2 linked regions of the Homo sapiens genome follow. The protein of the gene in region 2 purifies or fractionates together with the protein of the main gene of each other region. This does not show direct contact. Each region holds a gene or a part of one and is shown on either strand. Other genes may lie near its edges.

The links. Proteins that work in one complex are often made in the same cells at the same time.
Region 1: the proteins of NELL1 (region 2) and CEP44 purify together in Homo sapiens (affinity purification with mass spectrometry; 2 studies listed by BioGRID and IntAct, with this or other methods). This does not show direct contact.

What each region holds. Positions count from the first base shown.
Region 1 is NC_000004.12:174,307,911-174,311,410, forward strand, and holds part of CEP44 (centrosomal protein of 44 kDa), read left to right. Parts: intron 1-778; coding exon 779-949; intron 950-1,939; coding exon 1,940-2,146; intron 2,147-2,872; coding exon 2,873-2,948; intron 2,949-3,500. UniProt on the Homo sapiens protein: Centriole-enriched microtubule-binding protein involved in centriole biogenesis. In collaboration with CEP295 and POC1B, is required for the centriole-to-centrosome conversion by ensuring the formation of bona fide centriole wall.
Region 2 is NC_000011.10:21,558,086-21,561,585, forward strand, and holds part of NELL1 (protein kinase C-binding protein NELL1 isoform 1 precursor), read left to right. Parts: intron 1-2,103; coding exon 2,104-2,297; intron 2,298-3,500. UniProt on the Homo sapiens protein: Plays a role in the control of cell growth and differentiation. Promotes osteoblast cell differentiation and terminal mineralization.

The DNA of each region.
Region 1 (3,500 bases), on a different chromosome or scaffold from region 2:
CATGTCACGCTTCTCAGAATGACTATTATTAAAAAGTCTAAAAATAACAGATGCTCGTGAGTTTGTGGAAGAAAAGGAACATTTATACACTGTTGGTGGGAGTGTAAGTTAGTTCAACCACCGTGGAAGACAGTGTGGCAATTCCTCAAAGACCTAAAGACCATTTGACCCAGCAGTCCCGTTACTTGGTATATACTTAAGGGAATATAAATTGTTCTGTTGTAAAGATGCATGCATATGTTCATTGCAGCACTATTCACAATAGCAAAGACATGGAATCAAGCTAAATACAATAGCAAAGACATGGAATCAACCTAAATGCCCATCAATGATAGAGCAGATAAAGAAGATGTGGTACATACACACTATGGAATACTCTGTAGCCGTAAAAAATAATGGGATCATGTCCTTTGCAGAGACATGGATGGAGCTGGAGGCCCTTATCCTTAGCATATTAATGCAGAAACAGAAAACCAAATACCACTTGTTCTCACTTGTAAGTGGGAGCTAAATGATGAGATCACATGGACACATAGAGGGAAACAAAACACATTGGAGCCTTTCAGAGGGTGGAGGGTAGGAGGAGGTTCAGGAAAAATAACCAATGGGTACTAGGCTTAATACCTGGGTGATGAAATAATCTGCACAACAAACCCCCATGGCACACATTTACTTGTGTAACAAACCTGCACATGGACCCCTGAACTTAAAAGTTAAAAAATAAATAATTGTGGGAGGAAAACATTGAAGTGTTTCTTACATATTTTTCTCTATGCAGAAGAAAGCTGTGGTGATTCGTCACTTGTATAATGAAGATAATGTTGACATTTCTGAGGATACATTAAGTCCAATAACAGATGTTAATGAAGCAGTTGATGTGTCTGACTTAAATGCTACTGAAATAAAGATGCCTGAAGTAAAGGTTCCTGAAATCAAGGCTGAGCAACAGGTAACAACTTTGGACTTTTTAAATAGATGCCAGTATTTTTTACTTAAATATGTGTAATTATTTCAGCCTCTAAACTTTGGAATATTTCTAGCCTTTTGAATTATTAATCATGACATTTTATCTATGTTACAATTACTGAAGTGTCAATAAGTCTTACTAAAATAATTCAACAAATATTTGCTGCATATGTGTAGGGTGCTGGGCTAAGTGTTGGGGTGATGCAAAGTAGAATAAGATATGGTACTTGGCTTTAAGGAATCTACAATTTAGTGAGACATAGCGATATGCTACTTTGCATAGTGGAGGTTCTCTACCACCTATTTTCTTTATTGGTGAATGGAAAAGATTGGCACTTTATTGCCTATTCATTTTCCTTTCTGGGTCCCTGCTGTTATTTTCTGTCTCTCTTAAAAAACCATTTCTATTACTCTTAATTGCCACAGACCCCAATATGTCTGATCTCTACTGTTTCTGCTAAGACTTCTTTTTCTGTGTTTCTATGTCTTGTGATTTCTATATATCTCAGTATATCAATATACAGTTGGCACTTACAAAAACTACCAGATGGCCATTGGACCTACTTCCTGTTATATGGCAAACCGAACAATCTCAATGCACTAAGTGTTGTTTTTGGTCATTTCCTCTTAGCTTTGTGCTAAGCGTTGTTTCAAGAAGCTAGTTAATAATAGTTTTATTTTACTAGCTGGTATTAAGAGAATCATGCAAATTAACTCATTATCAGAAGAATCATATGAAATAGATACTGCTCTTATCTCTTTTTTTTTAATGAGGAAATGGAGGCATCAAGATCATAAATCTCAGAACTGGTTTAAGTGGCCAAGTAGTCTCCATCCAGAGATAGCTCTCTTAACTCTCAAGCAGGACGGTCTCTCCTAACTGTTGAGATAACGCTGTGGAAGTGAGAATACATTAATTTTAAAGAAATTTCAGTTTGTTTAATTTTATTTTTAATCTCTCTAACCTTTTTAGGATGTAAATGTTAATCCTGAGATTACTGCACTACAAACTATGCTTGCTGAATGCCAAGAAAATCTTAAGAAACTGACTTCGATAGAGAAAAGGTTAGACTGTTTGGAACAAAAAATGAAAGGAAAAGTGATGGTAGATGAAAACACCTGGACTAATCTTCTTAGTCGTGTCACTCTTCTTGAAACAGAAATGCTTTTGTCTAAAAAGGTATTTTCCTCCTTTAACATTTATAAAATATCTCAGATATAACAAAGTTTTTTTTTGATTGTTATATGTGTATTTTTTTGGAAATGCTAAATATGAGAATATTTGAATAATGAGAAAATGTCTAGTTAGAATGAAGTCCTGTTTAAATATAGCCTGTATGTTGTTGTGGCTGTTGTTTCTCTCTTCATTGAATAAGATAATCTGAAAAACTTGTCAGTTGAGCTTTTACAGATGTTAATAATGCTTGAAGAATTTAAAATGAGGTAAGAATATGATAGATATGAAAAGCTTAAAATTATTTTATATCTTTTAATAGTACAAATAACCTATTTTCATAGGGTAGAAAAGATACAGAAGATATAGGTAACTCTTCCCATCTTTTTTTCACTCATTTACTTCAATCATATTGTGAATTTCATAGAATAGTTACCAGATTTACCATTGCCTTATCAAATCTGAGAAATTTGTTTTTTTTTACTCAGGATTTCAATTTCTGGTCTGTCTTTCCTTCCTAGAAGGTGAAGTCAAGTAGCTTGCTATCTGCTTCCATATTTAAAACATTTCTTATATGTAGGAATATGCAGTATATGTATTGCTTTAATAAAAAATTAAAAATATTTAAACATTTATCATGCTACCTTTATATTTTATGCTCAGCATTAAGAATATAAAATGAGAGGGTTTTTCTTTTTATTTCATTCTAAATATTTAACTGTGTTATTCCAGAATGATGAATTTATAGAGTTTAATGAAGTTAGTGAAGACTACGCTTCTTGTAGTGACATGGACCTTCTGAATCCTCGTAAGTTTGTAAATACTATGAGAATTGGTATGATGAGTTTTCAGAAAAATGATTGTTATAGTAATTTTAATATTCTTAAGCTTTATTGTTTAGAAATTGCAAAGCTCCTAGAACAAAGAACATAATGAACCTACAGACTACTAAAGCCAAGAATTGCTTAACTAACCAGCCTACTTATTTCACATAACATAGTGGGTGAATAAATTTCAGTGTACAAAATTGAAAATTTTTAGAGATATTTTACTGTTTTAATCATTCGAGAATAATCAAGTGCTCTAGGATATTAATGTTGGCCTCCAAGTTTTTAAATTTAAGCTTAGGTAGGTAGTAGCTTTCTCATATGTAAATAATAATATGTAAGAGAAGAAAACACATTTGTCAGTATCTATAAAGTATTGCAAACTTCTTCCATGTGAATAGTTCACTGATAATGATAAAATGGGAAAGATCTGATATTAGGATAGGTCTTTTCCTGGTCACTTTACTAGGCTACTGATATTTTGCTTAGTGTGACTGAGCAGCAAGGGTAAGATTTCTGTTTTTCAGTGACAG
Region 2 (3,500 bases):
GAATTTTTAAGACTGCGTAGGAGTGAAAGTAGTACAGGAAGGAAAGTGCTTATCAATTAATTGATTGATACCTCACCTCATTCCCTATAGGACAAGAAAAAGTAGGGAAAGAGAGAGAGTACTCTCATAATAAAAGAAAGCATGTTCTAAGACACAGTTGTTTCATAGGAAACAATATGGCCTCTTTGTGGATCTCCCGTTGCTTTTTAAAAAAAAATCAGTTGACAAATACATTTTATATATATTTATGGTGTACAACATGATGTTTTGAAATAGGAATACATTCTGGAATGGCTAAATAATCAAGCTACATAATATATATATATATATTACCTTATACACTTACTTTTTTGTGACAAAAATATTCTCAATTTTCAAGCATACAATACCTTGTTATTAACTACAGTCATCATGTTTGACAATAGAGCTTCTTGAATTTATTCCTTCTATTTAACTGAAATTTTGTATTCACTGCTTTTGAATGAAAAGGGAGGGGACAAGAGATAACAATTGCAGTATTAGATGGCATTTATATGCTATGCTGGGTTTAAAATTTTTGGAAGACCATACATTGAGTGGGTATAGTGTATATAGAAGATAAATGAGAGAAAAACAAAGTAACATGTCAAAGAATATATAACTGTTACGTGTAAAATGACTAATACATGGTAAGCACTCAACTAAAAAGTAAGAGCTTGGTTTCAAACATTGGTCACCAGACTCCCACATTTAAAACTCCTTTTAGTTGAGAAGAATAAGAGAATTGAAAGAAGATTGAAGAGATAAGAGAGGCTATATGAAAGGAGCACCATATGTTCAAATAGAAATACACTGAGAATGGGATGGGCATGACTAGTAACAGTGAGGAGATATAGTGAGGCTTGATTTTAGTTGACTTACCATACAGGCATCATAATTTGGGATCTTTTCTATAATTTTCAAAGGAGAAATCATTGTTCACTAATGAAATGTCTTGACTAAAGCTAAAATTGGTAAGACAAAGCCAAAAATTAGATCTTGGAAAAAAGTAACTTCTAGAAATATTATTAGAATTTCTTAATGTCATCTGCTTTGTATTGCACCATGTGCAAAGAAACTTGTGCATAGCAGGTAAACCAAAACCAAGTAGACTAGTAGACACTTATTCAATGGCCTCAGACACTAAGTATCAGTACTTCTACAAATGAGTAGAAGTTACTCGGTAGTATATTTCATCTCAATTTAAGGGAGACATTTCCAAAAGAGTTATCCAAAGGTGGAGTCAGGTATTTTGCAAGGTAATGGATTGCCTTTTGGGGAAGGACTTAAGCCAGGGTTGGACAGGTTTGTGTTTGAGATGTTGTTAAGGTCGCTCAAGCTTTAAATGTCAGAATCGGCCGACTGGATTTATGTTTTTATTCCATTGTTGGCTGTCAATAAAGAGCAGGACAATATATTTATGTCTTTCATCAGCATCCATCCATATAGCAATTATTTTTTATGCACGGGCAAATATTCTGCTGGCCATAAGGATAGTAAGACTTTGACTATAAAAGACACCTATCAAGAATTGTTCCCACTTCCTTCAACTTTGGTGGTAGGATCTAGGAGCAATCTGATTGTCTCAAGGTTGCCCAAATTGCCCACTTGTTCCTACTCAGTGGCTAATACATTCACATCTTTTCTAAAAGACTCAGATCTCCATGGTGGTGTGTGCATACTGTTAATGAATTAACAGTGTTTATGGCCTCTGGATGAAATCGTTCTTAAGAATATCCTAAAAGAACTTGCTAACTGCTACTGGATATTTTAGTAATTAGAGTCTGGGAGCTAGCTGTAGATTTGGGTCTCAGATCAGCCACTTACTAGCTCTATGACAGTGGTCATGTTATTTAAGTTATGAACCTCAGCTTCATTATTTGCAGAATAGGAATAAGGACAGATCTCCCACACAGAGCAGAACTGACTTGCAGTGTAAATGAGATAATACATGTGAACAGCTTGGCAGTACCTAGCACAAGGTAAATGGTCGATGATGTTAGTTAATGCTACTGCAAATGATGGTTGTTTGTTCTCTAAGTTCCCTTGGCTAGATTCTAAGCTTCTGTGCTTCCTATATTGCAGACATTGATGAATGTGCCTTAAGAACTCACACCTGTTGGAACGATTCTGCCTGCATCAACCTGGCAGGGGGCTTTGACTGTCTCTGCCCCTCTGGGCCCTCCTGCTCTGGTGACTGTCCTCATGAAGGGGGGCTGAAGCACAATGGCCAGGTGTGGACCTTGAAAGAAGACAGGTGTTCTGTCTGCTCCTGCAAGGTGAGGCTGATGTGGTGCAGCAGAAATTGAAACTGTTCTTTCTCTTCTTCCCTCACTTTTCTACCTCCCCAGCTCTCTCCCTCTTGCTGTTGACTGTAGTTCCTGAACAGGCTTCTCCTGTTCTTATCTACATTACAGCTAATGATGATGCTAAGGGGTAGGGAAGCCTGCTTTGAATTGATTGTGTTCTTAGTGGAAAGTGAGGTATGAGATTGAGAAGGAACTGCAGGGAAGGCGAAGCAGGGTAGAAAAGCCAATGATAGTCCTCCCACTGAAAGCCTACAGTGCTTTTAAGGTTGGTTGGGTGAGAGTTTTAATGAGCCCTCATCCCACGCTTATACAAACTTGCTGATTAAAACTACTCTTTGCCTAAAATAACCACCTGCATGAACTTGCTCACTTTATGACATCATCTAGAAAAGCAAGGCCAACAGACTTGCATCCAGTGCTGAGACAGGTGGATTTTCATTTTGAACAAATGATAATGATAGTATGAGGCCTCTTAGAAATTGATGTCTTCTTTGTTATTCTCAGTGCTGGGCCATTCCTTATATTAAGTTGTTGGAAAGTGAGCTTAATGCTTATGAAAATAAAATTCTGTCATCATTTGGTTTTGCTTTATGCTTTGCAAAATGGGTCTATTAAACTGTTTGATCTCTTTGTGCTTTATTTCTTCTTTTATTGATCTTGCCTATTTATTTTCCTTTGTTATTGCTCTACTGTAGCTCTTGCCTGGTATGTCTATGTCTGTTGGGATGGGACTATTTAATCTTGAGCTTTATGTGCATGGGAACCAAGATAAATTACTTGCTTAGTAGCCTCTTAGCCAAGTCTCCTGATAAATTCCCAGTCTGCTGAAACAGAGCTGAAATGAGCCTTAAGAAATCATCCAGTTCATCCACTTGCCTTCATCTGCCACACATCCACAGACCTGGGGCCACCTAGTTAGGAGGGCCACATTATCAAGTGCTAGATCATTACCCCCAACACCTATTTTTTCCCCTTTCACATAAACCTAGTTTCCCACACTCCAATCTAGGTTTGTTTTCCCTTATTGGAGCACCTGCTATATTTCAGCCACCCTATAATTCAAAAAAGCTGCATCATGTTTACTTCTTACAGCACTACTTTGAAAGACAATGAAACTGAATTTCCATGGGATAAAGTAACTTGCCCTAAATGTTAAAGATATAAATGTCTAAG